4 linked regions of the Homo sapiens genome follow. The protein of the gene in region 4 interacts with the protein of the main gene of each other region in a pairwise test. Each region holds a gene or a part of one and is shown on either strand. Other genes may lie near its edges.

Evidence for each region.
Region 1: the proteins of LASP1 (region 4) and QRICH1 interact in binary tests that used the Homo sapiens proteins (3 or more experiments, as listed by UniProt).
Region 2: the proteins of LASP1 (region 4) and RBFOX1 interact in binary tests that used the Homo sapiens proteins (3 or more experiments, as listed by UniProt).
Region 3: the proteins of LASP1 (region 4) and PAK1 interact in binary tests that used the Homo sapiens proteins (3 or more experiments, as listed by UniProt).

What each region holds. Positions count from the first base shown.
Region 1 is NC_000003.12:49,029,207-49,035,847, forward strand, and holds the end of QRICH1 (transcriptional regulator QRICH1), read right to left. Parts: intron 4,023-6,641; coding exon 3,914-4,022; intron 3,568-3,913; coding exon 3,416-3,567; intron 3,068-3,415; coding exon 2,977-3,067; intron 1,439-2,976; coding exon 1,246-1,438; 3' UTR 501-1,245; downstream 1-500. Other genes in the region: IMPDH2 (inosine-5'-monophosphate dehydrogenase 2), read right to left, coding at 47-144. UniProt on the Homo sapiens protein: Transcriptional regulator that acts as a mediator of the integrated stress response (ISR) through transcriptional control of protein homeostasis under conditions of ER stress.
Region 2 is NC_000016.10:6,021,890-6,029,665, reverse strand, and holds part of RBFOX1 (RNA binding protein fox-1 homolog 1), read right to left. Parts: intron 1-7,776. UniProt on the Homo sapiens protein: RNA-binding protein that regulates alternative splicing events by binding to 5'-UGCAUGU-3' elements. Regulates alternative splicing of tissue-specific exons and of differentially spliced exons during erythropoiesis.
Region 3 is NC_000011.10:77,351,853-77,359,628, forward strand, and holds part of PAK1 (serine/threonine-protein kinase PAK 1), read right to left. Parts: intron 7,166-7,776; coding exon 7,046-7,165; intron 3,991-7,045; coding exon 3,816-3,990; intron 1,748-3,815; coding exon 1,684-1,747; intron 1-1,683. UniProt on the Homo sapiens protein: Protein kinase involved in intracellular signaling pathways downstream of integrins and receptor-type kinases that plays an important role in cytoskeleton dynamics, in cell adhesion, migration, proliferation, apoptosis, mitosis, and in vesicle-mediated transport processes.
Region 4 is NC_000017.11:38,907,441-38,915,216, forward strand, and holds part of LASP1 (LIM and SH3 domain protein 1), read left to right. Parts: intron 1-6,884; coding exon 6,885-7,035; intron 7,036-7,538; exon of another isoform or gene 7,539-7,602; coding exon 7,603-7,706; intron 7,707-7,776. UniProt on the Homo sapiens protein: Plays an important role in the regulation of dynamic actin-based, cytoskeletal activities.

The sequences.
Region 1 (6,641 bases), on a different chromosome or scaffold from region 4:
GGGTGCCGCCCCTCTCTTCGCCCAGGTGAGCCCCATAGGCCCGCACTTGTAGGTGAGGCCGTCTCCGCAGTTGAAGAGCTGCTGTGCTGTGAGTCCGTCGTCTGGCACGTAGGACGTGCCCCCACTAATCAGGTAGTCGGCCATGGCCAACACAGGACACCGCCGCGTGTCTCCGAGGACCGCGCCGCAGAGACCTCTGCCGTCTGGGCCGCGCCAATATAAACCAGCCGATTTCGTCACTGCGCTGCGCGCGACGCTGACGTCAGGGCGTAGTGCGCGCGGGCGGAACCTACCCGCCTCGCTGCGGCGGGGGCGGAGCTGGCGCTGAAGAAACAGCGCATGCGTATAGCACATAGTGGCCTTGTCACTGAGGAGCTGCCACTTCACGTCCCACCCCACACTCCCCGCAGGACCTCGGCCAGTTCAATTAACAGGCAAGGGTTTACTTCTACTGTCCCGCCGGGCTCCTCCCCAAAATAAAGAGACGTTGTTCACTAACATGTTGAAAAGACGTGCTTGTCATTCTTAATAAACAACTAGAGTAAGAATACATAAGAGAAACAGAGTGGTATCTTTATATGATACACAAGTGTATGTTACAAGAATTCCATCAGGCACAGGAGCCTCAGGTTTTAAGGCCTCAATGTTAGGCCAACAAAAAAAAAAAAGGCATGGTAAAGTTTTTACTTTTACATCTAAAATGTCACTTGTCATAAAGGAGGGTGTAATAGAAATTGTCTTTAATAAATCATAATTGAAGTTCCCCTCATTTTTCTTCCATTAAGATGCTAAGTTTATGTCTGATCATGAAGAAAGAAAAGAACATCGTTCCCCTGTGGTCAGCAAAGTCTGTCAGCCCAGTGGAAGTCGGCTGGGGAGATTCCCTCCAGGGTCCATCCATCATTAATTCCATCTCTCTTGAAGATGGAAAGGGGCCACATTTCTTTTCACAGTCCAAGCCCTTTCCCCAGGCCCCAGACAAAAAAGAGTCAGCCAGCAACTTTCTAGGACATATGACACTCAAGGAAACCCAGAGCCACCATCGGCTGAGGAGTCTGCCGCAGCAGGTTTATGAAGATGCAAAGGGGGCAAAGTTTTCTTTTATATTTTAAACAGAAGCAGCCTGAAAGGCTTCGTAACTACACCAATAAAAAAAAGAAAAAAAAAAATGGAGGCCTCTTCTTTAGTGTGAAAGTCTGTCTGGTTTTTCCTGGCTGGTTTCTCTTGTGCCATGGCCAAGGCATCTCAGTGCATAGTGCTTGCATTGGCCACTGCGATGGCCTCCTGAATTTCTCTTATCACCAGGATCCGCGTCAGCATTTGTCCCATCTGCTCTCTGCTGATAGGCTGGACTGAGTACCAGATTGGGCTGTTGGGGGCCACCACTGGCTCAGGTGTCAGGTAAAAGGTGTCATTCCGGCCTTTCACACTCTGGGGGCTGAAGAATATGCGGATAAAAGTTGGGTACCACCAATATAACTTCAACCCTCCCACCCTGAACTTCCCAGACAGATGCTGTCTGCAAACAGTAAGGCCCCAAGTTATTGTGGCACAGCTACTGAATTCCATGCAGCCACCACACACTACATCCTGGTCCTCCTTTGGGACTACTGCAAATCCCCCAAATGTTGGGTTACTTCCCCTCTGCCCCTCCTTCCCACAAACCAGCTGTGATCCATCACTGACTGCACCAGCCTAGGGCTCTCATGGACTCATGTGAGTCTATCCTTATCCTACTTGAAGCCAGCTTCACTGCTCAAAGCGTCTATCTCCAAGTCTTTGCGCTTTTTTTTTTTTTTTTTTTGAGATGGCGTCTTGTCTCCAGGCTGGAGTGCAGTGAGGTGATCTCAGCTCACTGCAACCTCCGCCCCCTTGGTTGAAGCGATTCTCCTGCCTCAGCCTCTGGAGTAGCTGGAACCATAGGCACGAGCCACCAAGCCCAGCTAATTTTTGTATTTTTTAGTAGAGATGGGGTTTTTCCATGTTGGCCAGGCTGGTCTCGAACTCCTGACCTCAGGTGATCCACCCACCTTGGCCTCCCAAAGTGCTTGGATTACAGGCGTGAGCCACGGTGCCCAGCCTCATGTTGTGTTTTCTACCCAATAATGATGGCCATTACAGTGGGGCCCTAAACTTGGGTTCACCCCCCTCCCCCGAACTGTGCTGTACCTCTATTAAGTACTTGGCATGCTGTATCCTCTAACAGTTATTCATCCATCCATTCAAGATTTATTCAAGGGTTACTAGTGCCAGGTCAGCACTAGGTGCTGATATTTAAAAAAATGGGCAGGAAAAGTATTTCCTACCCATGGAGCTTACAGATAGGAGGGGACACAGGTAGCAATTAAAGTTAAACAAATACAAAATAAAAAACAGTGATAAGTGCTACCGAGGAAACAGTCACAGGGAAGAGGTGGGGAATCTGGAAATGCTTCCCTGATAAGCTGTGTTTAAGTTGAGAAGAGGCATAATATGATGTCCTTGAGTGGAGAGGAGCTAGTGTGGCTAGGGAACTAAGAGCTCCACAGACATGAGGTTAGCAAGGGGGAGTGCATCAAAGGAGTTGTCTGCCATAAAAGAATTACTATGTAATGAGAAACCATTGAAGGGGCAAAAGGGAGAAAAAGCTGAGAGGAGTCTCACCTAGATTAATGATGGCAGTGACAAAAGGTCAAGGTCAGGAAGCAGGGCCATGCTCAATATGTGATGAAGGTAGATTCTCTGTACCTTCATACCCTTTTCATGAAAGGTGACTGTAGGGACCCGGGACCCCTTTTTCTATCAGTGCTAGGCACATCACACACCTTTGGAAAGCCAGAGCAAGGCTGCTTCTAAATTTAGCTTTCTGGAAGTGTTTTTACTTGGTTTGGGACTAGAGAATGCCTCTCCCCTATGATAAGTGATCACACAAGTGAGCATGCACACGCATACACACACATGCGCACACATGGACAGCAAGTCACAATAAAGCCTCACCATTTGAAGAGGTAGAAATCATAGAGCTTGATGGGACATCTCAATGGATTCTCTGGATTTTCCGTCTGTTCTGCATACATGTCATCTGTAACTATAAAACACACATCCCCACCACCACAGACCTGGCATCAGACTGCCTTACCTCAGGCCCAGATCAGGAAACTTAGGCTTTCAGCCAGCCCAACTAGGAAATACAGGGTCGGGGGAGGGAAGGTATGAGGCATGGGCAGTGACTACTAAGGGAAGAGGCAGCTATTCTGTCTGGGGCTTCTCTGCTTCTAGGAGGAAAGTTTGGAATTTTTGGCTGGGGAGAAGGGAGTGGAGAATTTTATCCAGCAAATCCCAACCTTTACACTTATCACTAGCCTCACAGGCACAAGGGCAGGACAGGGCAGGACAAGTAGCACCTGTTTTTGCCATCCCTGCCTCCTTTCCCTACCTTTCTGGCCAGTCTGGTGTATTCCAAGGGCCTTCAAGTACCGGATACTCGTGCTTTTATCCTTGGGATTAGAGGGGTTCTTCTTTGTCTGTCGCAAGACCTTGGAGAAGGCCAGCTTCATGTGCTGGTCCACTGTCTTCAATAGGAAGTACCTGGATCACAAGTAAAATGCAAGGCAGAGGGAGGGGTGCCGGGAGGATACCATGACTCATCCTCTGCCCACTGGTGCTTCAGAGGAGCCACTGCCCACATTCCCAAGATCTGGGCAGGCCCGTACCCAAGCAGTGTCCAGTGCAGGAACCACATCAAGATGGATGGTAGGGGTCTGGCAAGGGTGTTTGCCTCACTGGTTACCAAATAAAATGCAGCCAAGTGGGGTTAGGGCTTTCAGTAGCCCAGTTTCTCAAATATATGTCAGAGGAATTCAGAAGGCCTCTTGGATAGCTTCCACACTCTTCACTGGACAGATGCCAGCAGTGGAGCCTCTAGAACACTTACTTGGTATTAAAGAACATGAGGGTGGTCAGCAAGGTGGAGGGGGAGTGAGCCCCAAGCTGCTTGCACTCCCATAGCATCTCCTCAGTCACGTGGCTGGGCAAGACATAGCCTAGGAGGAATAGAGTACTGTCACAACAAGAGGATGGCAGGTGGTCTCTCAAAGGTACAATATGGGATGTGTGAAGCATAAGGACCACACAGGAGTATAAATTTCATCAGGGGACTCTCCCTAAAGTGTGGCAAAAATCATCTGGAAAGCTTCTTAAAACACAGATAGCTGGGTCCCAATCTGTTTCTGAGGTGGAACCTGATGATGAGCACTTCTAACACCACACTTGAGAACCACAGCCTTACATGATTGTTGTTACCCTCTAATCCAAGGCTAACACAGGGCAAAAAGACTGCCCTCAGAGACAGTGAAGTACAGAAAACTATAAACCAAACTCTGCATATATGCATAATTCTCTGAGAGTGTACAGAGCTTTGCATATTTTCAAAGGTGGTCCAGGACCCAAAGAACTGGCATGCACGCCCGTTTGCCCTTACCAAGTCTTCTCTCATCTCAACTGTCTCTAAAAAGCAAGGCCGGCCAGGCGCAGTGGCTGATGCCTGTAATCCCAGCACTTTGGAAGGCCGAGGCGGGTGGATCACGAGGTCAGGAGATTGAGACCATCCTGGCCAATATGGTGAAACCCCGTCTCTACTAAAAACACAAAAAATAGCCGGGTGTGGTGGCGGGCTCCTGTAGTCCCAGCTAATCGGGAGGCTGAGACAGGAGAATGGTGTGAACCCAGAAGGTGGAGCTTGCAGTGAGCCGAGATTGCACCACTGCACTCCAGCCTCGGCAACAGAGCGAGACTCCCATCTCAAAAACAAAAAAACAAAAAAACAAAAAAAACAAAAAAAACGGCTATTGTCATTTCTTCTCTAGATAAAGAGACTGATACTCTTTGGGGGATTTTATTATTATTATTATTATTATTATTATTAGCTAAGATACAGGGTCTCTTCTACAATATTTATCTTTTTTTAAAAAAGGAAGACCAGGCATGGTGGCTCACGCCTGTAATCCGAGAACTTTGGGAGGCGGAGGTGGGAGAATTGTTTGAGCCCAAGAGTTGAAGACCAGCCTGGGCAACATAGCCAGACCTCATCTCCACTGAAAATCAAAAAAATTAGTCGTGTGATGGTGCACATCTGTGATCCCAGCTACCAGGGAGGCTGAGGTGGGAGGATTCCTTGGGCCTGGGAGGTCAAGGCTGCAGTGAGCCGTGATCGCACCACTGTACTTAAGCCTGGGTGACAGAGTGAGATCCTGTCTCAAAAAAAAAAAAAAGGGAAAAAAAAGAGATGGGGTTTCGCTCTGTCACCCAAGCTAGAGTACAGTGACACAATCATGGCTAACTGCAGCCTTGAGCTCTTGGACTCAAAGACTCCTCCTGCCAGTTTCCTGAGCAGTTAGAAATACAGGCGTGAACCACCACGCCTAGCCAATATGCCAGTATTTGAACTATTACAAGATCCCCCCCACAGGGCTGGTGTTACTGTAAGACCCTGGTTCATAAGTGAGCCCAGAGCTAGGTACAGGCAAAGGTCAATAATTTGAATAAGAGCCCTGGTCAGCCAGGTCTGCACCAAAGAAAGATGACATTTGAATGACTACCAAGCCCCTTCATGTGCTGAAGTCAGTCAGTATGCACATGTTTGTGCACTGGGTGCATAATGAGATAGGAGCAGGCAACAGTATTCTCCTGCAGGGTTTCGGGATTCTCCAAGCAAGCACAGTGTGTGACACTTCCTGGAAGCAGAAAAAAGAACATTCTGCCCGATACACTCCTCTTCTGTGTTCTATGCTCTTGCCAAAACAAAGCTGGCTCTCTAATAGTGCATTTCCATCTCTTTAAGGCAGTTCTGACTCTATTTTTTGTCTACTTTTCGGCTATTTTGTGACCCAGTGGCAATGGGAAAAGCTTTTCTGCTCTTAGACATATCTGAAGCCCCCAAGATCCAGGATGAGCAGAAAACAGCCCTTCTCAGCAAAGAAGGATTCAAGGAATCCTCTCACCTCAGCCTCCCTAGTAGCTGGGATCACAGGTGTGCACCATCACACTCGATTATTTTTTTTGATTTTTAGTGGAGATGAGGTCTTGCTATGTTGCCCAGGCTGGTCTTCAAATCTTGGGCTGAAGCAATTCTCCTACCTCGGCCTACCAAAGTTCTGGGATTACAGGCGGGAGCCACCATGCCTGGCCTTCCTTTTCTTAAAAAAATAATTTTTCTCCTGGGAACAATTATTGCCATACTTTGGCATGTTCCACTTCTCTGGGTTCGCTCTGTCACTTGCTCCCTCTGATGTCACTTCCCTAATTTTATTCTCTTCTCTACAATTTGTAATAAACTTGGCTGGGTGTGGTTACTCATGTCTATAATCTCAGCACATTGGGAAGCCAAGGTAGGAGGACTGCTTGAACCCAGGAGTTCAAGACCAGCCTGGGCAACATAGGGAGACCCTGTCAATACAAAAACCTTAAAAAAAAAAACAAAAAAAAACAGCTGAGTGCAATGGCTTGAGCCTGGGTCCCAGCCCGAGCCCAACAGGGTGAGGCAGCAGTGAACTATCATCATGACATTGTACTCCAGCCTGGGAGACAAAGCAAGACCCTGTAAGAAAAACTAAAATAGCCTGGGCATGGTGGCTCATGGGTGTAACCTTGGGAGGCCAAGGCAG
Region 2 (7,776 bases), on a different chromosome or scaffold from region 4:
GAGTAGCTGGGACTACAGGCACCCGCCACCACGCCCGGCTAATTTTTTGTATTTTTAGTAGAGACGGGGTTTCACCATGTTAGCCAGGATGGTCTCGATCTCCTGACCTCGTGATCCACCCGCCTCAGCCTCCCAAAGTGCTGGGATTACAGGCGTGAGCCACCACGCCCGGCCATGTTTTTCTTTCAAATGCTAGATTCAACTGTAAAAATTCTCAAACTTTAAATAGTCTATCCTCTTTCAGTGTGCATATATAATGTCAAGTTTTTAAAATTTGTGGCTAATCGGCTTTCTTATACTATTTCTCATTATAAACTGACACCAGCGAAGCACAATTCAGTAGAAATAAGTTTATAGAATGGGGTGGATGGTTCCTTGTTCTTGTTATGAACTTTTGAAGATTATTTTAGGTTTACACAGACAAAACCAATAAAGTTTCCTGAGCAAAATGAATGAAATTCACTAGGAAACAAAATATCTTTCCACAAATCACAGCACACTAACTAGGGAACCTTTTGTATCAAAGAGTCATGGGGTGAGAGGCTATTGTCTGAATACCACAAGGTAAAAAAAAATAAGAAGTGACTAGCTCGGAAGTCTGTGTGATTGCTGCTTGACTTAACTCACTCCCAGGTAGCCATCCTTGGAGACAGAATCATTTGCCTTTTAATAGACAAGTAAATGGAGGCTCAGAGAGGTGCAGTAACTGGCCCAAGCTCACACAGCCAGGAAGTGGCAGAATCTGGATCCACAAGTTAAGTGTACCTGGCTGCCATGACTTTGTCCTTTCGCACCTTGGCGCTCAGGGAATTCAGTCTTCTCAAAGCTTTTCTGACTCCAACATAGCCCCATTCAGTGCCTTATCACCTTGAAGGCAAGACACTTCTTTAACCAGCATCCTACCTGCTGTAATTCAGACTGAACAATCTCTCCAAATCAGAAATGAGAAATCTTTCTACAAAGAGCTTCATGTTCTTTTTTTTTACAGATAGGGTCTTGCTCTGTTGCCAAGGATGGAGTGCAGTGGCACAATTACAGCTCATAGCAGCCTTAAACTCCCAGAGCCAAGCAATCCTGTCCCAGCCTCCTGAGTAGCTAGGACTACAGGCATGAGCTACCACACCCAGCTAATTTTTTTTTTTTTTTTTTTTTTTTTAACAGAGACAGGGTCTCATTATGTTGCCTAGGCTGGTCTCCAACTCCTGGCTCAAGCAATCTTCCTGCCTCAGCCTCCCAAAGTGTTGGGATTGCAGGCAGGAGCCACCATGCCCGGTCATCATGTTCTTAAAGAGAGGTATCAACCATGCCCTTTATTCTCCCTCAAGGAAACTACTGCACTTTCTCTAACCTGTGAAAAGGACTATTTTCCCTCCACTGGGGAATTTCTGCATGCACACACTCCCTCCCTCCTCTTATCAGCCTTTGCAATCAACAGCAACCTGAACTGGACTCAGCTTTCTAAGGATACTGAAGAAATAGGTATGACATTTACAACGTGGTAAAAGTGAGCCATGCCATGGACATCTTCAGGAGACTCACTTGAGAACACAGGCAGTGACCCAGAATCAAGACAGGGGGCTGGTCCCAAGGGAAACAGACACCAAGCCAATACCCCTGGGATCTAGCCAGGGCTACTGTTGCTGAATCAGCCCTCTCAATCCCCTGCTCCGTCACTTTTCATAACGAGTCTAATAAATTAGTGTTTCTCTCTGCCAATCAATCAGAGCCCATGCATATGGCTGCTGTCAGCATCCTCTGCAGGCGGAACTCCACACAGGGCCTCAAGTCTGTCAACGATCTCAACCGTACATTTGCAGCTACGCTGGGTTCTTCCCCCTTCACTCTCAATTTGTCACCTCAGTTACAGTCAAGAGGAAAATATACGAAGCACATTCTGGGACCAATTTGCTGCCCAAAGGGATTGTGAAATTCTAGCAACAAAAACAAGGTTAATAATGATATCATTATTATCAATGGATAATAGTAATCGTCATGATTATCATAGTCAGCCCTATGACTCCTACTTGCACTAAACACACACTAGGTGCCAGGCACTTTGCTAAAATAATTTACCAGGCTGATTAATCCTCAGACGGACTGTACAATGTAGTGATAATCTCCATTTGTAGGGATGGACTGAGGTTCAGAGAAATTGAAGAAAGTGAAAGGTTATGGACTTAGAAAGTGATGGAGCTGGGATCTCAAGCCAGACACACTGATTCTGGAATCTCAGTGAAATACCTGCACTGCCTCCTTCCTAGTACCTTATCATGGTGCCTCTGCTATTCCCTGCATCCCAAGCATGCCCTCTCCACACACAGCAGGGGAAGAGAACTGCTTGAGTCTGCAATCTCGGTTTGCCATTTAGTCACTGGGCCTCAGTTCCTTCATCTGTCAAGTGGTATAATAAAGGGTTTGCCATGAAGAGTTAATGAAATGACACACAGGAAGCCCTAGCACAGAAGGAGCTTCCAGTGAGTGTCATAGCTATTAGGGTCCCAACCATGGTACAAAGAAGACAATTTTGAAAACCTCAAGTCCTCACCCTCATCTCTGACACTCTATATTCTAAAATTCACAGAAAAGAGACATCAACATCTTGGGGAAATGCAGAACTAGCAATGAACAAGGTGATTGCACAAGTTCATCCATTATGCTGGCAAAGATCTAATTTTGTTCTCAGAAGAAATGAAGAGGGAAGCTGATTCAGATGACGGTGATTAGATGGAGTGAGCAGTGGTTTGCACACCACATTTTGAGTGGCTATCAGAGCAGCTCCAGCTGTGACTGCATGATGCCCAAGGACTGCCTGTAACCAGGCAGGTGGTCCAACCGCTCCCTCAAAATCATACTCAGAGCGTGAGCCTAGATAAAGAGGCCAGAGATGCCCTGGGCAACCCAGGGCCTTGAGACTCCAAGGAGACAAACAACAAAACAAGAGCCAGATTGCACCAGTGCAGAAATCTAGCGAGGCTCTTACACAACGATAAAGTAATACTGCAATAAATAGAAACAAGTGCCTTGTTTTCCTTTTGTGGCTCTAATGGGCTCAGCATCACTTCTCAGAGCAACTCAAGCTATGCAGCAAGAGCTCCCTAACCACTGCACACATTGCCTCCCACCCTCCCTTGTATCTTGCAAAGGCAGCAAAAGAGGCCATGTGCACAGTGATGAGCATCAGGGGCTGTGGACTCAGACTGTCAGGTTCAAAATCTTGGAAGTGCCTCTTACCTGCTGTTGTGTCCTTGGACAAATTGCTTAACGCCTGCCTACACCCCACTCTCTATCTGCAAAATGGGGATCTGAAAAGCACTAACCTCAAAGTGTGTGAGAAGCATCAAATGGAATAATTCATTATTTCCATATGGGGCTTCTGCTGTGTGCCTTGCACCACGCTAGATGCTAAGGAGACAGTGATGTCCAAACAGGTGTATGCATGGTCCACCTGCAGTTGACCATGGAGTGGAGTAAGAGAAAAAGGATAAAACAGAGTCACTCAATAAAATATAAGATGCCCCTGGGATGGCTGTAAAAAACGAGAATCGACACAGGCAAACAGGGACAGTTTCTCTAAGCCTGGGGCTTTTGAGTTGTAACCTGAAGGATGAGCAGGAATCGAATAAGGTGAACTGCTGGGTGGGTGGGGGAGGCGATCACATGCCTGAAACACATAGCACAACACACAGCCATGAAGGTACAGTGCTTGGCTCAGCTTGTGCTACATAGGAAGAGTTCAATCCATGTACACTTATTCTGATGTTCATGTCACATATAATAGGCAATAATGCAGTTCCAGTATTGTGGATAAAGAGACAGTCAATGTGGGAGGAAAACTGAATTGTCCAGGTGTCCAAACCCTCCAACAAATTGCACCTCAACCTTCTAAGGGCAGGGTAGCCTCTGAAGATGGACAACGTCGGCTGCACTCAGAGCTCTCCATAAGCAACCCACTTTGCACTGTCAATATCTGTTATTACCCTGGCCCACACCTACCAATGGGAGAATCTGTGGCCATACTCTGAAAGGGAACCTACCCGGACAGACGATCAATAAAGGGCATCTGAGTGCAACTGTTCTCAGGGTACTCCCAGGAGACTTGTCAGTCAAGCCATCAAAAGGATGTGGTGGTGGGAGGGTGCGGCTGCTCATGCAGGCACACAAGAACACATGATGTTGCCTCTTTGAAGGGAGGCCCCAGAGAAAGAAAATCTAAGTAGGCTAATGTATACAGATGTATCCTCCCAGGGTCTTCCACCCTCACACAAAGAACATTACTGGAAAATGAGGTTCTTTTTCCCTATAAAGTAATCCCTCTTCTTGAATGAAAGATTTTAGTGTAAGCCCTACGAAGTAGGTGGTGGTGGGGAATCGAGTTTAATTTCTCAGACGTTGCAAGGCTTACCTTTTCAGATGTCACTACGTCCACAGACCAAATCTGGTCATAGAAATGAATTGAAACTTTGAAAAAATAGAGCCGGCCGGCCAGGAAGGCATGCTTGTTTATTCACTCATCTCAAAAACACCTAACAATTTTCCCATAATGTTTAAGACATAAATATATCCTGGTATCTCTCTGCATAAAATCCCCCAATGGTTTCCCATTAGAATAACAGCCAGGGTCCCTTCCCAGGCCACAAGGGCCTATAGGACCAACCTTCAACTGTATGATTTTGTCACTATTCCAGCCTCTGGATCGTTGTGCTTGTTGGTCCCCTTCTCTGAAACGCCCTCCATGCAGACAACTATCCTAGAACGGAAGTCTTTTAGGACAAGGTATCTGCATGTATTGATCACTCTGCACTTGAAGTGCTTTCAATAGTGCTTGGCACACAGTGGGTGCCTGATGAACACTCAGGAATTCATAGAAAGTAGGGGTGAATGAGGCTGGGCGTGGTGGCTCACGCCTGTAATCCTAGCACTTTGAGAGGCCGAGGAGGCGGGTGGATCACTTGAGGTCAGGCGTTTAAGACCAGTCATGGGGAAACTCCATCCCTACTAAAAATACAAACACTAGCCAGGCGTGGCAGAGCACACCTGTAATCCCAGCTACTCAGGAGGCTGAAGCATAATAATCACTTGTACCCAGGAGGTGGAGGTGGCAGTGAGATGAGATCACACCACTGTACTACAGCCTGGGATACAACGTGAGGCTCTGTTTCAAAAAAAAGAAAGCGGAGATGAGTAGAATACTCATTGGATAAATGTATGGATCCATACAGATCAGCTACTTCTTTTCATGTACTTCTCAGGTCAAATCTCTCCTCTCTGGAATGTCCCCCCAAGTCACTATCACACTATAATTTTTGGAACCCTTTTCATTATCCTTATGAAAATATATTTCAACGTCTTGCTTATGACGCGGCTTCCCCCACGACAATATAAGCTACAAGAAAGGAAAGTTCTCGTCTGCCTTATTCACCAAGCACAGGGTCTAACATGTGGTACATTCCAAATAAATATTTCTTGCATTAGCCACTCCTTCCCCTAAGACAACACACTCTTCTGTAGCAGCAGGCCACAGTCACCCATGTCTCTTTGACTAGCGAACAATGACAAACCAGTGGTAATGAGTGACAGTGCTCACAATGACTACAGATTCAAAAAATGAGGACAGTTGCCTGTGTATATAACTCCACGCGTCATTTTTCATAAAAACTCCTAGCCCTACGACCGAGTCTAACTGTGTTCACAGTTGACATCATCTGAAAGTGCTAGATCCCCTTGTTTTGAAGCTCCATCACTGATTGATTCTTTAATTAAAGTTTTAATATTTATACCTGTGCCTCGAGGCAGTATTTTAAATAATGGAGGTAGACATTGGGAAGAGCCTCGTGGCTTCTTTAAAAACGTCGCCTCGGTGTTTGAGGTCTCCGGCACGACACTGTGGGTAAATGTGAAAGCGACAGATTAAAGGATGATTTTAGGAAAGTCAGCCAGTATTAATTTGTGGATGATGCTTACTGTGTAACTCCCATGCTGGGTGGCAAAGGCAGGACGAGCTGCCCTCTGTCCTTCAGAGCAAACGTGCTAGGATTTCAATAGTCTCCTTACACGCCACTGGGAAATCGCTGCGTCTCCAAAGTATTTTCTGTGTCAAATACGATTTCCCTCTTGGAATGTGTTCATTACTCCACACATCAGCTTAAAGGATGCAAACGAAATGGTCTAATTTTTGGAAAGGTGAAATGTCAGATTCCTATACAGGGCAGACCCAATTTTCTGGATACAAAAAATATGTACTATCAGAAAGGACTTTGATAAAATATAATAGCTTGGGATGGTTCGAGCTAAAAGGACTAAGCTTAATTTTTTTCTAAAATCATCAGAGACATGAGGATGTCTAGAAGACCTGTGCTCAAACCTTACAGGAGCAGGTTCTATATATATATATATATATAGCTTCAATTATAATGAGAAGAAAAATAGGGCAGAGTGGGTCAATTCCAGGAGGAGAAACCCGCTCAGACCCATGTTTCAGCTTCATTTCTGAGTGGAAAACTCTGTAGCTTCAGGGTGATGTAAAAAACTGTACGTTCTACGGACAGCAAGATTTATTACAACATTACTGAAACTTTATACCTGTTGATTAGATCAGCAAATCCTCATTTCCCTGGCCCCTGAGACCCTGGCCACAACCTTCTACTCTCTGCTTCTATGAGTTTGACGATTTTAGATCCCCGAATCCCTCATGCAGTAAAGGTAAATAACTCCTTGACATCTCCTATACAATACTATCCTTAAAACAGTCATGTATGATATACTTAGAAATCTTTTCACAGGGTACAGCCCATGTTGTGTTCTTGCCACAACAAAACTAAAATTCTTTCTAAAAACTGGATCAAGGTATTTGTGCATTCAGTTCATTTATGGGCAAATGTGTGCCACAGATGTTTATATGTTTATACAATTAAATACTATCACAAATTGTTTAGATACTATCACAAATTGTTTTTTGTTTGTTTGTTTGTTTTGTTTTGTTTTTGAGGCAGGGTCTCATTCTGGTCACCCAGGCTGGAGTGCAGTGGCGTGATATCGGCTCACTGCAGCCTCAACCTTCTCAGGCTCAGGTGATTCTCCCACTTCAGCCTCCAGGGTAGCTGGGATTACATGTGTGCACCACCACACCCATCTAATTGTTTGTATTTTTAGTACAGACAGGGTTTTGCTAAGTTGTCCAGGCTGGTCTTGAACTCCTGGACTCAAGCAATACGCCCACCTCAGCCTCCCAGAGTGATGGGATTACAGGCATGAGCCACTGCACCTGGCCACAAAATTTTATATCTAAACATACTAATTGCAATGTGTGAATCCCAGGAGGAATGATAAAGCCACTTCTAATATTCTTCGATTCTTGTGTTTTCAAAATATTCTATGTATTAAATAAATGATGTTCTAATTAAAAAAAAAAAAACAGATTTGCTAAGGTAATACTTTCATCCCAGGGGGCCAAGGAGATCAAGTCCTTTCAGTGGGTCAGAAGAAATGTACAACTGCTGCAAAAACTTAATTTCAGGTGCTTGTCAAGACAGCAAGTCAAATGCCACCAACCTATATCTTGGCCAGTGGGTGGGCAGCTTGTCCGTGATCCTCCTTGGAACATGCAGAGAGCAGAATGGGAGAGCTTGAGGCTTCTGTTCCTTACTTAAAAGAAAACGTGTGTGTATAAGGCAAGCCACCTGCCTTTCCTGTACCACTCGGTGCTACAAGGCTCAAAAATTAGAGGAATCTACTTGAAAGAATAAAGAAACAAAACTCATAGAATTCAGGCACTTACCA
Region 3 (7,776 bases), on a different chromosome or scaffold from region 4:
CTCTTTTGGTGGGTCTTTAGAAATCTCATTTTTTTTTTATAGAGAGGTATAACTTAATTTGCACAAATCTTAAGTGTACAACTTGATTTTTATATATGTACACACCCATGTGTTCACTACCAAGATCACCCCCAAAGATTCCCTCATGACTATTCCTACTCAACATCCTCCTCCCAGAAATAACTACACTGTTCTGACTTCTATTATCATACATTAGTTTTGCTTGTTCTTGAATTTCATATAAATAGAATGACATAGTATCTGCTCTTTTATATCTGGCTTTTTTCACTCAAAATAATGGCCACTTTCAAAAGACACTACAGTCATTACCCCCGAAGATTCCTTCATGCCTATTCCCACTCTACATCCTCCTCCCAGAAATAACCACTATTCTGACTTCTATTATCATATATTACTTTTGCCTGTTCTTGAATTTCATATAAATCAAATGAGACAGTATCTGCTTTTTCATATCTAGCTTCTTTCACTCAAAATAACAGCCAAACACTTTAAAAACACAAGACAGTCATGTGTCACATAACGACGTTTCAGTCAACGATGGACCGCATATGATGGTGGTCCCATAAGATTATGATGGAGCTGAAAAATTCCTATCACCCAGTAACACTGTAGCAGTTGTAACGTCATAGCACAATTACTTTGTTTTTTAATAAATGTACAGTCTAAGTGTACAGGGTTTATAAAGTCTACAGTAGCGTACACAGTAATGTCCTAGGCCTCGACATTCACTCACCACTCACTGACTCACCTAGAGCAACTTCCAGTCCTACAAGCTCCATCCATGTTAAGTGCCCTACATAAATATACCTTTTTTTTATCTTTTATGCTGTATTTTTACCGTATCTTTTCTATGTTTAGATATACAACCACCATTGTGTTATAATTGCCTACAGTATTCAGTACAGTAACATGCTGTACAGGCTTGTAGCCTAGGAGCAAGAGGCTATACCATATAGCCTAGGTGTGTAGTAGGCTATACTATTTAGTTTTGTGTTCACTCTATGACGCTCACATGACAAAACTGCCTAAGGATGCACTTCTCAGAACATATCCCCTTTGTTAGGCAACATATGACTATACAATTGTTTGCCTATCTTTTTCTGTTGACTTGAGGTCCTTGGAAGCAGAGATTGTCTCTGAATTCATAGTGCCTTGCACACAATAGGAACTCAGTTAAGACTTGCTGAATTCATTACACTGAGGGCAGCATATAAGATACAGAGAAGGATGAATGCAAGAAGGATAAATTCTGGCATCTACCTAGAAAAACAGGTCCTATCACAGTAGTAGAAGGATTTATAGTTTTGGGTCTTCCATTTTATATTAGTGCTGGTGGATCTCAGCACTAGGACAAACAGGGTTCATCCGGAAAAGCAGAGTTGTAATTTGGGAAGTTGGTTTTGTGCTAAGAAAAAAAACCGTTCTCTCACTGTCACTGCAGGGGTATTTTTAGCAACATGGTCAGCTAATGGCATCTCTCTCATATTAAGCATAATTCTGCCAAATCTCAAGTCAGTCTCACATAACAACTCCAGATGGGTGAGGGGTAAAGTGGAGAAAGAAGAACAAGGTTTATGAGAGGCAAAAAAAAAGCAAAATCATATATGCCGGCACACACACTTTAAAGTCATTTCTCCAGGGAAAGAAAATGCCCCTACTAACCCTTGTCCAATCTTCTCAAACCGTGTATATTTCTTCTTAGGATCGCCCACACTCACTATGCTTCCTTTGAAAGAAACAGAGACCATGAATCATTTTTTCCCAAATCAAGATACAAAAAAGGTTCCACATTTCCCCAACCCCTGTAGCTGGCAAGGGTTAAAGAACTACCTCCAATAGCCAAAAAGCATGCTAAACAGGCCCTCAGCTTTTCCCCCATAAGTCTCAACCAAAAGTTTCATCACCTTGACTGCTTTGATTCATAGTAAGCTATTCCATTTCTAAACTCCTAAAAGTCATTCATTTTTTAATTAATCCATTCAGTAAATATTTACTCATTTAATACGCACCAAGCCATATGTTGTGTTAGGAATGAAGAGATATGACACAGTCAAGGCAGTCCCTGCTCTCAAGAAGGTCAATTTCATGGAGGAGACAGATAAGTAAGCATAAAGTTCCATGAAAATATAATAATTGCTGTGATAAAAGCCAAAGGGGTACAGAAAGAGGCACACACACACAAAAAAAAGACTGGAAAAACTTCAGAAAGGTGATATATGGACTGATTTCCACTTTAAGTAAAAGCCAGAGAGATAAAGTAGAGAAGAGGTTTACAACAAAGAATATTTCAAGTGCAACGACATAGAGGTTTTCCACTGGGTTTTATAACTTGTATTTTAGAGATGGAGAAATTGAGGCCCACAGAAGGGAAGAAGATACTTCCCCCCCAAGGTCACACAGCAAATTGGTGTCAGAGCTAAGATTAGGAGTTTCATTTTTAGTCTCCCGGTCCAATGTGCTCTCCATTAATACCCAATTACTAGGAATTGGTACTTTTCACATATATTACCTCATTTGATTTGCAAATGAGACAAGTATTAACATCCCTATTTTAAAAATGAGAAAAATGAGGTTTAGAGAACAGTAGAAAATTGCCTAAGACACAAGTCAGTGGCTGAGCAGAAGCTTCAACTCAAGTGTCCTAACTCCCAGGCCAAGTCTTAATTCTAAGTCATAATTCTAAGTGTTATTGTTAAAACAAAACAAAACAAAAAACTCTGGTTTAGAGAACAAGACTACATACAGGAGTAAACAGATGACTAGGTAAGTGGCTTTTCTTACTTTGTCATTTTATGAGGGATCCAGAAAAGGGCAATTTTTAAAACAGTGAAAATTTGTTTTAAAGTCATATAGGAATTAATCAGGAAGAACTAGAGAACCACAAAGCAATGCCAGTTTGCAGACGTCGCCAAATCGGTCACATCAAATCCTTTTTGGAAGTAAGTAGATACAGTGAATAAATTAAAGCCCTTGTCAAATGATTCTTCCAAGCCCACAGATCAACCTAGTTCTTCCTTCTAACATGAATTCTTCTGCAGTTTACTGAAACACAGAAATAAGCTACCCTAACATACCCCCATTTCTGGCAGCTAAAGAAAGTAAAATGGAAGTTTCCACTTGACAGCAAGAGGCAGTATGCTCTACTTACAGGAACAAAAACTGTGTTCTAACCTCAGCCATGTCACTTTTTAGCTGCGTGATTTTGGGCAGGATATTTAGCCTCCCTGAGCCTCAGATATCTTCATTGCAAAAATTAGGATCATAATGCTTTTCTTCACAGGGTTAATAAGAGAATTAAATTTAAAAAAAATCAAGAAAATATTTTGCTTGTCATTTGATACATACTATAGGTTCATAAAATGTTAACTTCCCTTCCCTCTTTTCCTACAACCAAGATGGCAGATGCGTCTTCTCCTAGGTCAATGGCAAAACATCAATAATTGATCACAGTGCCCTTTTCCACTAGGTCCTCAGTCTTTCTCAACATGGCATTCTAGGCTATTCATTAGAGAAAAACTATTTGTCTTCGCTATAATACATGCCTAGGGGTGAGGGATGCCCTGCCCTCAAAGTAAGCTATCCACACTCTCACCACATCTCCATCCTAACATAGTATCCAACCAGGGCTGTGAGACAGGGAAGGGAGGTTCAGGGGCAGGGTGAGGAGAAGCAGTCTGTGCCTAAGGTACCAAGCATGGCCAGCCAGCTGCATGGACCAAGCCTACGACCAGCAAATCTCTGTGCTTGACCAGTCATAAAACGAAGAAAGGTTCAGAAAGCTACAAATTCCTTACGTAATTTCTCCAAGATCTCCTCATCAGACATTTTAGGCTTCTTCTTCTGCTTCTCAGTATTCCGGGTCAAAGCATCTGGTGGAGTGGTGTTATTTTCAGTAGGTGAAATGGGAGATGTAGCCACGTCCCGAGTTGGAGTGACAGGAAGTGGTTCAATCACAGACCGTGTGTATACCTGCATTATTAGTGCAAAATTTTGGCAAGACCAGCCTTTGTTAGCATAGGGGAACCTCTCCTAGATGTGAGGTTAGAACATCCACAGAGCAAACCCCAATAAACTCATCCTTTCTCTTATGTCAAAATCTATATTACTCCTCCTCTGTGCCCAGGCCCACCCATTCTGGGTAAAATGGCCTTCCTTACTCTCACTGTAAACAAAAGAAGTGAGAGTCTCAGCACTAAAGATATTCAATAGAGGCTAGACAACTATCAAAAGAAATTAGTTAAAGACAATTCTATTAGATAAGAATCCCCTTCATCTGTAATATTTTATGCTTCCCCAAGCTAAAAGAAATATCCTGTATTCCCCAAGCTAAAAGAAATATTCTGTAACAAAAGAAATTAGTTGAAGACAATTCTATTAGGTAAGAATCCCCTTCATTTGTAATATTTTATGCTTCCCCAAGTTAAAAGACATATCCTGTAGTAATGCAAATAGCACTTTGCATTACTAGTACAACACCAACTTCTATTGAGTTACTCCCTCCTTACATCCTGAACCCTTGCAGGGAAGGAACTACTTTTGTTCTTCATCAAGAGGTAGTAGAGTGTGATGATTTAGAACATGGACTCTGGAACCTGACTGCCTGAACTTAAATCCCAACTCTTATTATTCTTACCTTCTGCATGACTTTGGGCAGGTTACTTAACTTCTCTGTGTTTCAGTTTCCTCATCTATAAAATGGTGATAATAATGATAACTATCTTTTGGGGTTGCTGTAGGAGTAAACTGATTAATATGTGAGGTAATCAGACTCATCCCCAGCAGACATTAAGCACTCAAATTTTACCTTTTAAAAATATTAAATGTCCTATTCATTCATTTACATAACAAACATTTACTGAGAATCTATTTGTTGCCTCACCCTGTACAAAATGCTGCCCCAACCTCTCATTCTTATAAAGGAGGTGAGAAAATCATAACTACAAGGCAGAAAGTGATACATGTTATAAAGAAATAAGCAAGCTATATACTACTGAGGTTCAGAAGTGATCATAAATTATACTTCCTTTCCCCAGGAGATGCTTCAAGGTATTTAACAGATTTTATCATAAAAATATCACAATTATCTTTTGCATAGTCCATAAACAGTATAAGGACAGGGAATGTGGGTCATTCATCCGTGAGTTCCTCCATCTAACCACTTACTAAAAGAAAGCAAGCATTCAGGTAAATATTTGATGGAATAAATAAACAAACAGGATCCTGCAACTGGATCCTGAAGGACGGATAGGTTTCTACAAAGATAGAGGATCATTTATCTATGATGATCATTTATCTGCGATGATGCAAAGCCATTGGCAACAGTGGGACTCAAACCCATGGCTCCACAGAGACTAAAGCCAACTACATCCTGCACCTTGGACTGCTTGACCATGCTACCTTTTGACTGGACAGGCTTTTAATAGGTGGAAATGGGAGAGAACATTCCAGTAGTGGGAACAGCAATAAGCCAAGACGCTGAGATCAGAGGCAATGGCTTCCTTCCTGATTACTACTCTAGCATAATGATTTCTCAATTTTCTATTCTTGTACCTGTAGACAAACTATATCCCAGGCACCTAAACCTGTACTTCCATGCCTTGTCCTCTTTTGCCTGTCCTGATATATCTCTTTGAAGACAGAAACCTTGCCTTTTCCTTCTTTAATAGTCTCCTTCTCTGGCTCCTAGCACAGGTTTGTACACACAAAAATACCACTGTGCTATGGTGGAAAACAACCTGGAGTTGGGGTTAATTACCTGCTTTCAAATCCTGGCTCTTTTGTTTACTAAGAGACTGGGCAGATCAATTCACCTCTCCAAATCTCAGCTGCTTCTTCTATAAATTAGGAATTACCAATACCTTTTTAGAAAGAAATGCTATGAAGATCAATTAATTAATTAATTCAATATTTACTGTCCTCTGATATTTACCCACCTCTGCAGGTGCCAAGAACTATGTTAAGCACTAGAAATACATACATATGGATTTCCTCTACTTTTTGAGGTGTTCATGGTTTAGTGGGGAAAAAAATGTTTTAAATGAACATGTCTACAAACCAAAAAAAACCATATCAGTGTTAACGACTCTCCAATTTTGAAGCGCATTTTCCCTTGAGGTAACTTTGTGACCTACAGAGATGATTCCACAGATTCTGTTTGTAAGTTCTCATCCTAATAGGTCATATAATTCCTTTGAATTTCCTCCACAGCATCTCCAATAGTCATTCAACCAATTTCTGTTTGAACACCTCCCTGAATGCTGTATTCCAGAGGTAGCCCTTTTTTTTTTCTTTCATGATCACAGAAGTGCTAGATGGTTCCTTCATTATGGAGCTCTCATCTTAGTAAAAGACCTAAACAAAGAAACACTAGTAGAGTATCATCTGATGGTAGGTCAGTGCTCAGTGATGCCAAATTAAGTAAAAGGCACAGGGACTAGATGTTTCAAAGCAAGGTTAGAGGGACCATGGCTATTCTCAGAGATGCAGGAACCTCAAAGGAAGTTAAATAGAAATCACTGCCAACATCCGGCATCAAAATGCACTCCTGATGCCCAGCATATTAATAGCACTAATGTATTTATATATTCTCTTGGGTCTTTCAATATTATCAATAATGCTCTAAGAGGCTGAACACTGCACATTTAACAGAGAAGAAAAGATCTGTAGCAAGACAATTTGTTGCTTCCCTGGAGACTGGAATAATTTATGTTAGTCCTGCACTAAGTAGCATCAATCCTATATATCTTCCTGTCCTATCTGTGGAGAACCGAGACTGGACTGGTATAAACATCAATTACCTAGGACACTTTGGGACTATCTGCAAACCAATGATAAATAAACACATGATTTTTTGTCTTTAATCATACAGAAAGTACCTTTAGTCAAGGTAGTTCAGTGATTTCACCAGCTCCAAAATCTAAGGACGCCTACCAGAATATTAAACTTCTAGGTATCAGCACCAACTCCTCCCTCTCCCCACTTACTCTAATAAATCACAAAACTGGCCAGGTCCCCAAAGACTCACAGATTTTGTGTGCTCTGGGCGTGGAGCAATCACTGGTGGTGGGGTAGCATCATCATCATCATCATCCTCATCTTCTGAAACTGGTGGCACTGCAGGAGTCTCAGACACAGCCTTCACATTCTGTGCAAAGAAGAAAAGCAAGATGCATCTGGTCCAGCTGCCATGGAACTTAACTATCAGGATCACCAAACCTCCCACGAGAAACCCCATCCTGATATCCCTTCTGAAATACACATTAGCCTCCAAGCTCTCACCTTTGTGTAGCTAGTCTCAGAAGCTCAATCTGTTTCTCCCTCTTCTTTTAGCCATCACTATCCACTCAGTCCCTTGGGGCTTCCTTCTCCCACTCAAAGCCTAGCTGTGAATGGGAAGCTAGCTTACAGCTTTTCTACCTGCCTCTCCCCCAACCCAACCCCTGAAGACAAGCTCACAGTACCTTCTTATTCTATGAATTTTTCTCTCCACACTGAACAGGAAATAAAGTATGAAATGTAGGGAAGAGATCAAAAGTTTCTAATTTTTCAAAATTCATCACTATAATTTCTTACTCTCTCCTGATATGGTAAATGGCAGTCTAAACAGGCTTTTGCCCTGCCCTTTTCCTCTCTTTGCAAAAATCTCCTGAACCCATTACATTACCAGGGGTCCTCACCTCAACCTGAAGATAAAGAACATCAGCATCAGGATCATGTTATCTAAAGAGAACAATGAATTTCTCCCCAGACTGGATA
Region 4 (7,776 bases):
CTAGCTGTGATTTTGTCCTTGTGTCACCAGCCTTGGCTGTTACTGAGCAATGAAAGCTCTGCCTCGGGAAGTCATTTAATTTCTGAGCCTCATGTTCCTCTTCTGGAAGATGGGAATGAAAGTGTGCGTGTCCGGCCCATTTTTTAGGGCAATGATTGTCAGGGTATGAAGAGCTTGGTCAAGCTGTGTGAAGAGCTGTACAGCTGCAGAGGTTGTTAACATTGATAGAGCCACCCAGGAAGGGTGTCCTGGGTTCAGGCAGCTACTCCTCCAGCCGTCGGGTCAGCCAGCCGTAACTTTAGATACACTTATCCATGTGTAATGACTTTTTAAGAAGCAAGATCAGTTTCCCCAGCCCTTTATGGGAATACCCATGTGTCCATACTTGCTTTCAGCTTAGAGTTTGCTCAGGTTCCTAGAGCTGGTCAGGGTTTGCAGGACCGCCTGGGAGCAGATGGTACCATGGCCTTATTTACAGATGAGGAAACTGAGACCCAGAGGGGAAAGTGACTCCCAAGGTCATGTAGGTAAGCATACGGCTCCCCTAAGGATGAGGCATTGGTCTGGTGACAGTGCAGCCCATCATAAGGGACTGAGCCTGTGGGGTCCAGACCTGCTCTCCTCCCAGAGGAAAAGGCTCCCTGTCACCCCATCGCTAATGCAGATAGCGTCATGTCCAGGGAAGCTGTCACACATTCATCTGGGCCCCCAACATCAAGGACACCTGTCCCTGCAGGCCCCCTGCTGGCACCTTCGGGGCCCAGGGCAGGCCCCTGTCCATTCCGTGTCTGCACTTCCCTCCCTGGTCACAGGTTCTCAGGGGCAGGCTCTTTTCCTTAGCAGAAAGGAAACAAGGGAAGCTGACCTTTCCCACCTCAGAACAAAAGTTGGAAGGGCAGGTGCCTCGTGAGCCTGGAGGCCTCAGGAGGGGTGTCCCCTTCCCTTGTGCCCTCCCCGCCACCAACACCAGTGGACAGGGATCACTAAGAGAGTGGGGCTCGGGAGACTCACCTTCTGCGCTGGGTCTGTGAGAACATCACCTGGAGTGCCCCTCCCAGCGGATGCTGGGGTCGGTTGGATTTTCAGCCTGGCCAGGGTTGGCTGCCTCACCTCAGGAACAGGCTTAGCCTGTGCTGCCACGTGGGTGCCGGTCCTTGCTCTGGCCTGAAGGGAGGGGGCCGGGAAAGGAGGGACTGATCCTGACCCAAACCCCTAAGTAAACTGCCCTCTGCGTCCAGACTGGACTCCCCCCAGACTCTGTCCAGGCCCTTACCACTGCCCTCCCTGTGCCCCCAGCCCGGGCTGCAGGAACTATTGGCTGTTCAGCCAGCAGGAGCAGCAACCATGCAGGTGTTTCCAGCTGTTAACGTGTAAGCCCTGCCTGGCCACGTGCTTGCTCTTGCCTTTTGTGCACAGCCAGTGCCAAGGGGGAGAGGAGGCAGCAGAGACGTTGTGCGGAGGGGATGCCCAAAGGGGACTGCCCAGGCTGGGACAGCCCTGATGGGGCAGGGGCGTTCCAGGAAACAGCAGGTTTTGCCTCTCCTCCTCTTCCCACCCCACTACTCCCACCCCATTTTCCCGGATCAGGAAAAGGCAGGCCAGCATTCTAGGGAACAGGAAGTGAAGTTGGCTTCCAGCTAGGTGCCTGCCAGGGCCTGGAGGAAATTCCTGCAGGCCTGAGCCCGTCTGGGAAGGACCAGTTTCTCTCCTTGTCCTGGTGTCCTGCTTTCTGAGTTTCCCCTGAGGGTGGGGGAGAGCTGTCACTCTCTTCACTCTATGTCCCGCTTCCTCCCCCATCCTCATGGAGCACTCAAACCCTGAACCCTCACACCTTTCTATGGTTGTACCCGTCCCCACCAGTTTCCTCTCTGGAAAGTGAAGAGGAGGCTGGGCACGGTGGCTCACGGCTGTAATCCCAGCACTTTGGGAGGCCGAGGTGGGCAGATCACAAGGTCAAGAAGTTCAAGACCAGCCTGGCCAACATGGTAAAAGCCTGTCTCTACTAAAAATACAAAAATTAGCCGGGCGTGGTGGCAGTTGCCTATAATCCCAGCTACTCAGGAGGCTGAGGCAGGAGCATCACTTGAACCCGGGAGGCAGAGGGTGCAGTAAGCCGAGACTGTGTCACTGCACTCCAGCCTGGGCGACAGAGCGAGACTCCATCTCAAAAAAAAAAAAGAAAGAAAAGTGAAGAGGATAGAGCCCACTAGGGGTCATCAAGGTGTGGGACAGGCAGCATGTTCCTACAGGAAGAAAACTCTAACTCCTGGTTCTGGTTCTTTTTCATCTCATTCATTCATTCATTCATTCATTCATTCATTTGTTTTGAGATGGACTCACTCTGTCTCCCAGGCTGGAGTACAGTGGCTCGATCTCAGCTCACTGCAATCTCCGTCTCCTGGGTTCAAGTGATTCTCATGACTCGGCTTCCCAAGTAGCTGGGATTACAGGTGCCCACCACCATGCCTGATTAAGTTTTGTATTTTCAGTAGAGACAGGGTTTCACTGTGTTGGCCAGGCTAGTCTTGAACTCCTGACTTCAAGCAATCTGCCAACCTCGACCTCCCAAAGTGCTGGGATTAAAGGTGTGAGCCACCGCACCTGGCCATCTCATACTTTCACAATTCATTCTTTGGTGCAAGTTTTACAATATACATTCTATATTTGTCAAGTGATAACTTCCATGTAACTTATAAAATACACATAATTCAGGAAGATTGTGCTAAAATACATTTAACCAATAGGAGTATGCCGTCAGAATATTTTGGCAAACAAGGGTCACTAAGTTTTTTCTGTAAAGGGCCAGGTAGGAGGTATCTCAGGCTTTGTGGCCATATGGCCTCTGTGGCAGCAGCTCAGTTCTGCAGTTCTGCCATGAAAGCAGCCACAGATAAGAGGTAATTGAGTGGGTGTGGCTGTGTTCCAATAAAACTTTATTTCTGGAGGCTGAAATTTGAATTTCAGAGAAATTTCATGTGTCATGAAATATTATTCCTCTTTTGGTTCTTCTTCCCCCCCTCCACCGCCCCCTGCCAAGCATTAAAGAATGTGGAACCCGTTCTTAGCAGCCGGCTGTGGGCTGGATTTGGTCCATGGACCATAGATTCCCAGCTTCTGCTCTAGACCACCCGTTCTCAGACTTGAAGCCTGCTTCAGACTTACCTGGAGAGCTTTTTTCCAAAATGCATATTCCAGAACCCCAGCCCTGATTTTGTAGATTTTCTGGAAGGCCCCAGAACCCGCATTCTAACAAGGAGCCCAGTTGAGTCAGACACAGGTAGTCTGGAGTCCACTTTTTTTTAAACAGAGTCTCAGTCTGTTGCCCAGGATGCAGTGCAATGGCGTGATCTTGGCTCACTGCGACCTCCGCCTCCAAGGTTCAAGCAATTCTCGTGCCTCAGCCTTCCGAGTAGCTGGGATCACAGGTGCCTGCCATCATGCCCAGCTAATTTTTGTATTTTCAGTAGAGACGGCATTTCACCATGTTGGCCAGGCTGGTCTCAAACTCCTGACCTCAGGTGATCCACCAGCCTCAGCCTCCCAAAGTGCTGGGATTACAGGCGTGAGTCACCGCGCCCGGCCAGGAGACCACATGTTAAGAAGCAAAGCTCAAGGGTCTCCAGGATCCTGGTCTGTTCTCTTCAGCCAGTCCTGAGGCCTGGGGTGTGCAGTGCTGTGGGAGACCCCTGCATCAGAATAACTGGCTCCTTCACTACCTTCCAGGAGCTTCCATCCAGTGGGGGTGGGGGACACCACCCGCCAACAGCACAGCCCAGTCCCAGGTGCTATGGAAGCCCTGGGTTCAGCCTGGAGCCAGGGCCAGCGTCCCGAGGATGAGGTGCCGAGATGGACCTTGAAGGATGAGAGAAGCCTGGACTGCCCTTGAGTGGCGAGGGTGGGCTGCCTCCAGGTTGACCTTAATCCCTTCCCTCCCTACCACCATGTGTCCAGATGACCTTGGGCAGGTCCCTTAGCCTCTCTGGATATCGGGATATGACATTGACTACCTCAGAGACTTGTGGGGAGGATTCGGCGAGCTGATATGCATGAAGTGTATCAACTAGGGCTGCTGGCTGGTATCTCCTTCCCTTGTCTTCCCCCACCACCCCAGCCAGGGGACAGGGTGCTGCTGAGGGAGTGGGCTGGGAGAGTCACTTCTGGCCTTGTCTTAGGGATCTGAGAACAGGGCATGGGCCCCGTGTCTGGGAGTGCCCTGGTGCCCTTCCTAGTGGGGTTGGGCGTGGTCAGTCTGGCCAGGGCTGGCTCCCTCCCCCATAAATAGGCTCACCTGGAGGTCTTTTCCCATTTGAGGCAATGAGATATGTATGTGAGGCTTTATGACTTGTCTTTTTTTTTTCATTTTGAGACAGAGTCACGGAGTCTCACTCTGTCACCCAGGCTGGAGTATAGTGGCATGATCTTGGCTCACCGCAACCTCTGCCTCCCAGGTTCAAGCTATCCTTTTGCCTCAGCCTCCCGCGTAGCTGGGATTATAGGCGCCCGTCACCACACCCAGCTAATTTTTGTAGTTTTAGTAGAGACAGGGTTTCACCAAGTTGGCCAGGCTGGTCTCGAACTCCTGACCTCAAGTGACCCACCCACCTTGGCCTCCCAAAGTTCTGGGATTACAGGCGTGATCCACCGTGCTCGGCCTCACCACCCGCCTTTCTTGTGGTGTAGTTCTTGCTGCCTCAAGAACTACATATATCAGGCCTCAAAACCCACCTGATATATGCGTGCCTGGGAATAGGGACCTTGACTTTTCCCCTGTCCCATATGGGCCCAGGGGCCGGTTCTGGGCTGGCCCAGGTGGGGCTAGAGCAGCTGGATCCAGGCACATGAGATGTGAAAGTGTGGGCCTTACGCCGCATGGAGCGGCTGGAGGAAGGAGAGAGGGAGCAAGGGTGCCGCAGGGTCAGATTGCCACAGGGCCAGGGTGCCACAGGGTCAGGGTAGGGCCAGGGTGCCATAGGGTCAGAGTAGGGCCAGGGTGCCACAGGGTCAGGGTAGGGCCAGGGTGCCGCTGGGCCAGGGTGCCGCAGGATCTGGTTGCCACAGGGTCAGGGTGCCGCAAGCACAAGGAGTCACCCGTGATTCTCCAGGGTCTGGCTCTTGGGCTGAGATCCAGGAGACCTTGGCAGGCCTGTCTTTGGGAGTCTGGCACAGCCCCAGAAGGCCATCTGGACAGTTTTCAGACCTGAGAGGAGGAAAGGGCTTGTGTCTGGAGAAGGTGCCATGGGGGATGGGAGGTGGAGGAAGCCTGGGGCCAATCAGGATCTGGATCTAGCAGGGAACACCGAGGCCGGTGTTCTCGTCCCACCATGGGACTCAGCCTGAAGAAGACAAGGTGAATGAACGACCATTTCTCTCTAACTCAGTTGGCTAAGAGGACTGAGCTGGCGCCGAGGCTCTGGACACAAATGGGCCAGTTGACCCTGAGGTTTCTTTCTGGTAGTGGAGGTGGGGCTTCCTCTGGCTGACCCTGCTTAGGTCTCTGATGGAGGTAGCAGGGGCTCTGGTTCCCCCAAACTGGCCAAGTCCTCCACCATAGCACCCAAGGGGTCTGGGCAGAGTGCAGCTTCCCTCCCCTCCCCAGCTTGGCTTGGTGGGCACCTGCCTCCCCTGCCCTCCTGACCTTGATGGCTAATGCAGCCAGCCCCAGGCAGGCACAGTCACAGCCCTCAAACAACATGAGGCCCAACTCAAGACTCCTGGGTGGTGGTGGTCAAGGTGGGGGACTCTGTAGCCAGTAGAGCACTGTGGGGGCAAGAGACTGACTTGAAGGCTTGGAGCCTCACATGCCCGCCTAGTGGGGTGGTCCTGAGGGATATGACTTCTTTGGGCCTCTCTGCTCATTTTTGGAACCTGACCCGAGAAGGAGCCCATCCAAGACAATGTCCCGCCCTCAGGGAGGGTCTGGCAGTTTTTATCCCTAAAGGCTGGGATTCTCAGCGGAGCATCCTAGGCTGTAGTACCCACGACATCTTGCACACAAGAGGTGGAATCGCCTGTTGATGAAGAGCAAGGCTCTGGAATCTGTGATCTTGGGCCACTCACTTCACTTATCAATCCCTTCGCTTCCTTCTTGCCTGTTACATGGGGTCTGCAATCTACCCCTCAGGGGCGCTGACGAGCTCACATGAGCCTGTGACATAAAACACCTAGCACGGCCCTGGCGCAGTAAGAGCTCAGGAAACGGGCTGCTGCTGTGGTTACTGTGGACCCAGGCGGAAACAGAGCAGCCCCGCCCCTGCCGCAGGCATATAAAAGTGACCACTTGGCCGGTCACGGTGGCTCACGCCTGTAATCCCAGCACTTTGGGAGGCCGAGGCGGGTGGATCACCTGAGGTCAGGAGTTTGAGACCAGCCTGGTCAACATGATGAAACCCTGTCTCTATTAAAATACAAAAAATTAGCTGGGCGTAGTGGCAGGCGCCTGTAATCCCAGCCGCCCAGGAGGCTGAGGCAGGAGAATCACTTGAACCCTGGAGGTGGAGGTTGCGGTGAGCTGAGATCGTACCATTGCACTCCAGCCTGGGCGACAGAGCCAAACTCCGTCTCGAAAAAAAAAAAAAAAGAAAAGGGACCACTCACTTTGGTCTGATTCTTCAGTTCTCATGGTCCTTTTACATCGGTCATTTCATTGCATTCTCCAACAGTGTCTGAGGGAGACTGGTGTCTCATTTTGCAGAGGTGAAAACTGAGGCTTGGCAAGATTAGGTAGCTTGTCCAAGGACACACAGCTGGTGCTTCCAGAGCGAGACCTGGCTTTCTGTACCCAAAGCTCTTGGGTAGTCTCTCCCATCCTGGGATCTTGAGGGTCACGGGAAGGAACTGGGTGGTTTGCAGTGGGACCCTTCACCTAGTGCCTTCTGACCTTGCAGATAAAATACCATGAGGAGTTTGAGAAGAGCCGCATGGGCCCTAGCGGGGGCGAGGGCATGGAGCCAGAGCGTCGGGATTCACAGGACGGCAGCAGCTACCGGCGGCCCCTGGAGCAGCAGCAGCCTCACCACATCCCGACCAGTGCCCCGGGTGAGTGCAGGTCCTGTTGGTGCAGATGACCTGAGGCGAGGCCAGTGGGGTGGGGAGGAAGCCAGGAGAAGACAGACAGACAGATACACCTTCCGGAGCCTTGCTCTTAATCAACAGGCGATTATGCCTCTTGTGTGCAAGAGGGGACCAGAGGACCTGAGGCCGGGCCAGCTGGGGTGGGGAGGAAGTCGGCGAGAGACAGACACACACACACACACACACACACACACACACACACATGCACGCACGCATGCAGGCGAGGAAAAGACTGCTTCCCAAGACCCCAAGTTCCATTCTCATCCAGAATGAGGACGTGAGCACCAGGGTCAGGCCTGTACTGGGCCAAGAGGATTGAAAGGAGAGGCCCCCAGGTCATGGGGCTCAGAGCCCCTGCGTGGGATACAACACACAGGCAAATGTGCACACGTGGACATCAGCCTTTGAGCTGTGGGGCTTGAGCCAGGTTGGGGGCGGGGTGGAAGTGCATGGTATGGACTTCTCGGGAGCTCTGGGAGGGGCTGGGTTTGGCAGGACAGTTTCCAAGCCCTGTCTCCTCCCATCTTCCAGTTTACCAGCAGCCCCAGCAGCAGCCGGTGGCCCAGTCCTATGGTGGCTACAAGGAGCCTGCAGCCCCAGTCTCCATACAGCGCAGCGCCCCAGGTGGTGGCGGGGTGAGTAACCCTGGCCGGAGGGGAGAGGCCAGAGGCAGGGGGTCCTTCGGGAAGGCTTGGACACAGCTCA